2 separate regions of the Homo sapiens genome follow, and region 1 is linked to region 2. Evidence: fine-mapped expression QTL. A gene starts in region 2. The other region holds a variant in brackets. All regions are shown on one strand. Distances are from middle to middle. Region 1 has its middle 41 kb from the start of PRRX1. Region 2 holds the start of PRRX1 (paired related homeobox 1).

What was found. PIP is the estimated chance that this variant, and not a neighbour inherited with it, causes the effect. A credible set is the group of variants that fine-mapping cannot tell apart.
Region 1: its variant is the best candidate, but not a certain one, in a credible set for the expression of PRRX1 in cerebral cortex (GTEx, PIP 0.71).

What each region holds. Positions count from the first base shown.
Region 1 is chr1:170,621,238-170,625,633 of GRCh38, forward strand. No RefSeq gene overlaps it. Among named protein-coding and RNA genes, the nearest start is that of PRRX1, 41 kb to the right of the region's middle. The variant C/A (reference allele first, on the strand shown) is at 1,748.
Region 2 is chr1:170,661,639-170,666,034 of GRCh38, forward strand. PRRX1 (paired related homeobox 1) reads left to right here and starts at 2,493. Exons shown (of 4, transcript NM_022716.4): 1 at 2,493-2,821. The coding sequence starts at 2,581. RefSeq lists enhancers at 1,398-1,925, 3,126-3,986.

The DNA of each region.
Region 1 (4,396 bases), 40 kb before region 2:
AAGGTATAGGACAAGACTTTTATTTGATACAGGAAAGGTCTTACTGGAGGAGAATATGACCCAAACTGGATAAGGACAGACACATCTTCCTTGGCCAGATCTGACAAGTGGCTTTTCCCAGTTGTCTCACAAAAAAGAATTACATATTAATAACCCATATGCTTTATGTTTCTAATATTTAAAAAAGAGGTGATTGTAAAATATTTCAAACAACAGAAAATAGTACACTATCACCAGCCATATTTTACATGGTTTAGTATCTTATCATATTCGCTTTAGATCTAATTTTTTGTTGCTGGGCGCGGTGGCTCACACCTGTAATCCCAGCACTTTGGGAGGCCAAGGCAGGCGGATCACTTGATGTCAGGAGTTTGAGACCAGCCTGGCCAACATGGTGAAACCCCATCTCCACTAAAAACACAAAAATTAGCGGGGCCTGGTGGCAGGCGCCTGTAATCCCAGCTACTTGGGAGGCTGAAGCAGGAGAATCGCTTGAACCTGGAGTGTGGAGGTTGCAGTGAGCCAAGATCACACCACTGCCCTTCAGCCTAGGTGGCAGAGTGAAACTCCATCTGACACACACACAAAAAAAGACCTTCTTTGTAAGAAAGAAGACATAGCAGATATATTAATATTTGAAGGGTACAATAGAAGACAATCCTCTCCTGCAATTCCATTTCCTTTTTTCTCTCCATGTTAGTACCTGAAATTGGTGTGTATTTTGTTGTTGTTTTTATACCTTACTACCTGTAGATGTATCAGCAATCATTATGTAGTATCGTTTGCACATTTTAAAATTTTACTTAGATAATATTATGTTGTTTTACATTTTTGTATGATTTTACCCTACCATAGTTATTAACATTTATCCAAGATAGTATATACATATATATATATCTTCTAATTATTGTAACCACTAAAACTAGTCTACATATGTATATGTGTGGGATGCCATTTAATGATAGTTCACTATTATTACTTTTCATTGTTGTACTTTTTATTTTGCATTTCCTTGATTATAGGGAGATTGATTTCCTTTACTGTGATTTCTCTTTTCATATCTTTTGCCCATTTTTCCCACTGGATTGTTTGACTTTGTGAAATTAATTTCTAGCAGTTTATAATATATTCTAAATGTCATTTCTTTGACAATTATATGCCTTGCAAATAACTTCTCTCTACTATGTCTCTTTAATGATTTATAGACTGCTGTATATAATGGCACATCTCACCTCAATTCCTTAAATCAGCCTCATCCACTATACATAGTTGATGCCAAAAAGGAAATATTACAGCAACTTCACTGTGCTTTTCTATCAACCTCATTCTTGTTCAACTTCAGTTATACCTTGCTTCTAGCCCTTGGCTCTGTTTTTCTTTGGCCTCAAATCCAATCTTTTGTATGACATTTGAACTTGCATATCCAAGTTTTTATATTCTGTGCTTCCTGAAAATGTTGTTCAGCACTCAACCTTTGTCATCTCATCTTTTTCCTTCTTGTGTAGATTCTCTGGATCTTATATAATTTATATCCCATGCTTTCATGATTGTGATAAGCTAGATCCTTTGGTCTAGCATTGAAATTTCTCTTAAATGCTAAATCTTTAATAAATGAATTTGTTTTCTTCAGACATATATTTCTATCATAGATCATCTTATTAATGTATTTTATGACTTCTTTATTATCTGTTTCCCTCCATTCCATCCTCCTACAAGAATGTAAACTTTATGAGAGCAAGAACTTTGT[C/A]TTTTCACCACAGTATTTTCAATAATTTTTGAATGCAAAAATGAATCCAGATAATGTTCTTTGCATGATTTCTTATTTTTGGAAACCCAGCACAAGTCTTTCTAACTAAGGTTCTATACCGTTCTCACATCATAATATGTAGCTAGTCAATCTTCATTAATTATTTTTGTTGTAATTTCGTTATCAGAGCACCTTTGATAAGTATGGCAGTTTTAAAACATGACTGTAAATTATTTGTCATTTCTCCCATAAAGAGGTCCGATTTGTGTACTCATTCTTGATTTGGGTGAGTTTGTGGTGCCACAGGATTTTTGAGACTGAGTCATAAAAAGTCATGCAATTTGCACCGTGTTTGCTGGAACACTTGCTCATGGAATCCTGAGTCATGATGTGATAAGTCCAACAGCATATCCTGAGGCCACCATACTGTGAGGAAACCCAAGCCATATGGAGAGGTCACATGGCAACATGCAGATCACATAGTCACATGTAGGAGTTCTAGGTGACAGTCCCTGCTTAGCCCAGGCTCTGATTTATTCCTGACCAGTTCCCAGACATGGAAGAAGCCTCTAAATGATTCTGTCTCTCAATTGTTCAAGTCACTCCCAGTCATTTAAGTCTCTTTAGCTGAGTCCACATATACTATGAAGCAAAGACAGAACATGTCCACTGTGCTCTGCCTGAATGCTAAATGCTACCCTATACAAAAAGGATGCCAAATTAATTTTGAGGCCAAAATTCTATTATGGTAGAGTGAAAAGACCAGATAAACCACGTTTTAAATTAAAATGTATAACCAAGCTGACAATAATTTGGATTTGTTGCAAACTAAAACTCCACCTTAATAGATCAACTATCCAAAGAAAAAAATCTTGTTTTCTATACTTTTTGGCTATTATCACAACTCAAAGTGATAGAAGAAAAATAAAAAATTGAAGACTCCAGCAAATATGTTTCTAAGATATCTGATTTGAACAAATCATCCTGGAAGAATACTTTATAAATTTAACCATCATTACAATACCCTCAAGCCCAAAAGCAGTCTAGAGCTTGGGTAATGTTGGCCCAAGAGTTCATTATAATGATGGAATCTATTGCGTCAATACCAAAATCCCCAGCAAAGACTCTTAATATATAAATGGATGAAGGTCAGTACAAATGAACCCATATTCAGGACACTGTCAGCTCATGCTTTACATATCACTCAGGGGCATTTTATTCTACTCATTACTGTCTTCTTAAAGCTCTCCTCTCCTTGGGAATCTGTGACACTATTCTAGTGGTTTTCCTGCTCCCTATCCAGGTTTTTCTTCTAAGTCTTCTGTGGACACCTGTTCCTAATGCTACTGCAAGCACTGTCTTCAGCTGTCGGTTCTTATCAAAGTCATTCACATGAGTGGCCTAATCTACCATATACATGCTGACGACCTTCACATGTCTACCTCCAATTCAGATTTCTCTTGAAGCTAAACACATAATCTGCCCCCTTGGACATATTCCCTTAAAGATAGAATCTTCTTTCTCCCAAGGCTGGCTTGCTGCAGGTGTACTGGTCAAAGCCTAGGAGCCACCCTACCTCTGGCTATGTGTGTTGACTTCAGACCAGAGTGAATGTGCATGGAATCTAAGACACATTTCAGGGCCTGATCCTGGACTGGACATGGCTGTGGGTCCAGGAAAAGGCTGGGTCTCCAGTAAATTTTAGAGGATCAACAGGAATTTTGAAAGCTATCTACAAGGCTTCTTGTAGAAATGCCTAGCTTGATGGCCTATGGAAGCTTTAATGTTTTCAGAAATTGACTTTGTTCTTAGACTGCAGGCTATATGACAATTTTGTCTATTTTGCTTAACATTGTATATCCAACACTTAACAGATTGCCTAATCTAGGATAGGCAGACAATATTGACTGAAGAGATGAATGTATGAATCAATGAGTGAATGAAATATTCTCAGAACTGTTTTCCTCCCAATATTCCCTGTTTTTGGAACGGTGACATCATCTCTTTCCATTTTCCCAAGCCAAGAACCTCAAAGTCATCCTAGATCTTCCTCTCCTAGCCCTCACACGACTGTTTGATCATCAATTCTGTCAATTCTACTTTCTGACTATCTGCCCCTCCTCCCCATCCCCATGACCATTGCCTGAGTTTATCACCAACCTCTTCATCTTTTACATGGCTATCAGAAAGGTAATTCTAAACACAAGTGCCACTACGTCACATCCTACCCAGCTCTGCCACTGAGCTGAATGACTTTGGACAAGTTACTTAACCATGCTGAGTCTTGCAGCAGATTGTGAGGCTTAAACAAATTAATAAAGGTAAGCTATTTAGAACAGAGCCTGGAATAAGGTAACAGTCAATAAATGTTACCTAGTGCTTTTGTTATTATAATCCACTATTCTTCAATAAACCTGATTTGTCTACAGAAAAACAAAAACAAAGGCCAGGCACGGTGGCTCACGCCTGTAATCCCAGCACTTTGGGAGGCCAAGACAGGCGGATCCCCTGAGGTCGGGAGTTCAAGAGCAGCCTGGCCCACATGGTGAAACTCCATCATTACTAAAAATACAAAAATTAGCTAGGCATGTTGGCGCATGCCTGTAATCCCAACTACTCAGGAAGCTGAGATGGGAGAATCACTTGAAC
Region 2 (4,396 bases):
CGGTCGGGGGTTCGAGCGGCCAAGGGATGGGGGTGGGGGCGGGGAGAGTGGGGGGAGGGCGAAAGACCGCCGAGAGGAGGGGGGAGTGGGTGGACTAATGATGAAAAAGTCTCCTCCATCCCAGTTCCTTAATTAAATGCATGGAAAGAACCGAGGCGAGCACATCTGGTTTCAATCTACAGCCCTTTGATGGCATCAAATGTTCTTTTCCCAGATCAGGGCTGGAAGTTCTGGGCTAACTATGGCCGTTTGGAGCCCAGAAACCATTTACACACACTCGTACCCTTCTTTCTCTCCAGTCGAGCCTCTTGACTATAGGACGAAAAAAAAAAAAAGTCTAGCAATCAAGGGAGTGCGGGAGTACGGATGCGTGTGTGTGTGTGTGAGTGCGCGTTTAAAGAACATAAAACGCCACAAATAAGCACTTAATATTTTACTGAGTCGTCATACAGTAACTCATTTCTAATGAGACTGTTAAAGCTGTTACCAAATTCCAACAGGTCATGAAAAAACTGCTCAGCACCTCTCTGTCTTCTGTCAGGTTAGGGCTCCGCAGACGGACGACAGAGGATTATCCGTAGACTTAGATGGGGGTTCCTCCGCCCCTCTCTGTCCTCCTGCCACCACAGCCAGGCTGGACGCAGAACCGCACGGAAGCCTCCCCAACTCCTGCCTCTGGGAGTGCTCCTGCCTGCTTCAAGGAATCTGGGCAGCGGGACCCTCTGGGTTTAGCGTCCTCGCCTGGGGAAGCAACTTTGGCCTTACCGTAGAAGTTACAAAATTGGCGGGGGTAGGGAGAAAGATTATAATATATATTTGGAGTCCTTTCTTCCAGTTTAATAAACACGTACTTTTCTCATTGCCCTAGTCCTGGTATGCCTAATGGCGGGGAAAGCCTCAAATAAACTCGGTGCCCTCTGGATCTCCCCAACCTGCCTTTAGTCCTTGCGAGAGGCGTGAGAGAACTTCCTATTATCATCCCTTTTGTTATTTTTATTACATTATTTAATAGGCTCCCTCTACGGAACCAAAAATAGCCTTAATATGCTTACTTTCTCCCTGTACTCCGCCCCAAACTGTTAGAACAGCAGAAAATTTTTTTTTGGGGGGGGGCGGTTTGGGGGAAGGCAGAAGGAGAAGAAAATTTGATTGTGATGGTGGTGGATTTTTTCCAAATTTCCCCACAGCTGTTATCAAAACATGCAAATGAGATTTTCCAACAGGATCTTAAACAAATCTGGAGGAGTTAATGCCGAAGCAAAATAATCAGCACGTTTGAAGTGACTGTGAGTTTCAGTTTGTCTTTTCTCCCCGTGATATTATTGCAGGGGAATGATAATTAGACCTTTAGAAATCCAAAGGGGCTCTCTTGCTCTCTTCCCTCTCTCATTTCTCTTCTCTCTTTCTCTCTCTCTCTCTCTCCCTTCCTCCCTCCCTCCCTCCCTCTCTCCCTCCCTCTCTCTTGTTCCCTCCCTCTCCCTTTCTCTCTAACTCTGATGTTGGCAAAGGGGGTTTTCTTAATCAGACTGTTTTTTGGTCCCAGGGAAAGGAGGAAGAAGGAGATTGTGATGGAGAAAGGGGGTCTGTGAAACGTCAGGCACAGCACAAAGGCTTTGCCACGTAATTACAGGCTCCTATTAAGTCGAGATCTGCCCTCCCAGGGGTCTCCAATTTTCTTGTATTCCCTACAAAGCCTCCTCTGCATGCCAGTTTGTGCCTTTTGAAGTGCCAGAGAGCTTCTTGATCCAACTGAGAAGGAAAAAGGAGCCCAGCAAGAAGAGGGGGAGAGAGAGAAGGGGAAAGGGGGGAACCCACCAGCACCCTCCGTCGGACTCTTGAAGCCTTTTTTTTTTAATTCTTAATTTTTTTTTTTACTCTTTACAAAAAGTAAAGTGAGAATCCTGCTCTCTAATACATCTGCAAGACATCACCCTCTCCTCCTGAAACTTTAGTCACTCCTGAGAATCCACAGGAGTGCAGAGAGGGGGGAACACGTTTTCTTGAAGATGTTTTAAAGCTGGAACAAGCCTTCTTCTGTTGGTGCTTGAACTCTTGCCTGGGAATAACTTTTTTAACCTTTAAAAAAACCATTCACTTTGATTCTTCTCTCCCACCCCTTCTTCTCTCTTCTTCTGTTTGCCTAACTCCCCCGCCCTGCTGGCCTCCGCTTTCCTCTCTCCCCCTTGTTATTATTTTTAGTCTGTGCGTGTGGACACTTTTGGAGAGTTGGAAGGGATTTTTTTCTCCTGACTTGAACATAGGGTGACTTTTTAATATTGTATTTTACTGTGGATTATCTCTTTGGACCGCGCCGGACTTGGCCTCAGGAAATCAACCAATGCTGCGGAAGGCGGCTGGTGCACAACGCTCTGCTCTACAGAAGGGGGTCCCCCACCCTCTTTTCCAATTTTTTTTTTTTGGCCTTCCTCTCCTTCCCTCCCTCTTCCTCCCTCTCTCTCTCTCTCTCTCCACTACCCCCCTCTTTCTTCCCCACTCGGCTCCTCTCCCCCCTCGCGCCCACAGCGTTTGGTGTTGATTCGAGCGGGAAGAGGGGGGTGGGTGGGATCGGTGGGGGAGACCATGACCTCCAGCTACGGGCACGTTCTGGAGCGGCAACCGGCGCTGGGCGGCCGCTTGGACAGCCCGGGCAACCTCGACACCCTGCAGGCGAAAAAGAACTTCTCCGTCAGTCACCTGCTAGACCTGGAGGAAGCCGGGGACATGGTGGCGGCACAGGCGGATGAGAACGTGGGCGAGGCTGGCCGGAGCCTGCTGGAGTCGCCGGGACTCACCAGCGGCAGCGACACCCCGCAGCAGGACAGTGAGTGAGGGGCGCATGCCCACGGGGGTGTGTGCCCGGGACAGAGGGCGGGGACCCGTGTAGGGCAGCTAGAGCCCGTCCGCGGCCAGAAAGACAAGGTCCTGGGACCAGGAGAGGTGATGGCAGACTTCAAAGGAAGGGCCAGTCACAGGGGAAACCAGATGAGAAAAGCGGGTCTCGGCCGAGGGCATAGCCAAGGAGGACGCTGGAGAGAGGCTCCAAGGTCCGGGGACACTCCGAGGCCCTGCGGTCTCAGGCAGGGACTCTGTCCGCGGCGGACTCTCTTTACTTCGGCTAGGCACCGGCTCGGTTCATCCCGCACGCGGGGCGGCGGGGCTGGGCTGGGAAAAGGTCTTAGCGGGGTGCAAACTCAGAGAGCCAGCGCTGTTTGGGAAAGCAGCAGGTTAAAGATGCTGAGTCGGGTTGGAAGGGCTTCTCTCGGGCAGCGTATGACGGCTTGAGGGAGGGCACCAGGCACAGGGAGCAGGACTTGGCGCTGCTCAGGCTGCACTCTCCACGCGGGCACCGTAAGGCCGGGCGCGACCGGGAGGCCCCGAGAGAACGCCCGGCCCCAGACGCTGGAGCTGCTCTCTGCCCCCTGCTGTTGCCTCTACCGCAAATGGGTTTGAGACTGGCAGAGTCAAAAGCCCGGCTGGCTTGGGAAAACTCGGGCCAAGCAAAGGGAATGTCCTTTAAGGGTGAAACCTGAAATCCAGCCCCGCATGATCCCGCACAGGCGAGCTGCATCCGGGAGGCGCGAGCTTCAGTGCGGAGGCCAGTGTCACCTTAGAGGAGCTCTCCCTATTGGCTCTTAAACGCCCAGAAAAGTCCAGTTTCCCTTCCCCATCCTCACCGACCAACCTCGCGACCCATGAAAATCTCGCTTCGCTAGTGCCTTAAAAAGAGACTGCAATTGTATCCCCATGCCCCCAAGTCTGTAACAGACCGGTCACCCTGTTCATCCCAGGTGACATGTGGCCAGATATGTACAGATACTCCCTCTTCTCCTCGAGGTTGCAAGAGTCTGAACTTAGCTGTAAGTTCTCAAATGAGGCTGGTTGCTTTCTATGTCAGTAGTTGCTGGTTACCATTTTTGTCTTCAAATTTGGAAATCGTGGAACCGGGGGGCCCTCCAGCATTCTATGATTTTCACAAAACGTTGCCTATTTCAGACTCTCAAAGAATAGACATACAAATCAAACTGCACATAGAAACAATTGGAAACAGGGTCCGGGCACAGTGGTGGCCCCGCGGGCCACGCTACAGCAAGCCGCAGAGAGAGCCTCTGGTGTGCTCAAGACGCCTGGTCTTCACCCTGCTTCCTTAGTTCCGGCCTGGGCGCCCCTGGGTGTTTTTAGCCAAAAGCGGCCTAGGGCCGATCCACCCAATGCATTAGCAGACTGCTACAGGAACTGAATGAGGAAGTCTGGCCTGGACACCAGAGAAAGGTGGCCAACTCTGAGGAATGAAGAACCAGGTGTCCTCAAGTTCCGCATAAAGGGCTAGGCGCAGAGACAGAGACGTTCTCTTTAGGGTTTGGGTGCTTGAGAGGCTGCACCCGCAGCATTACTTAAG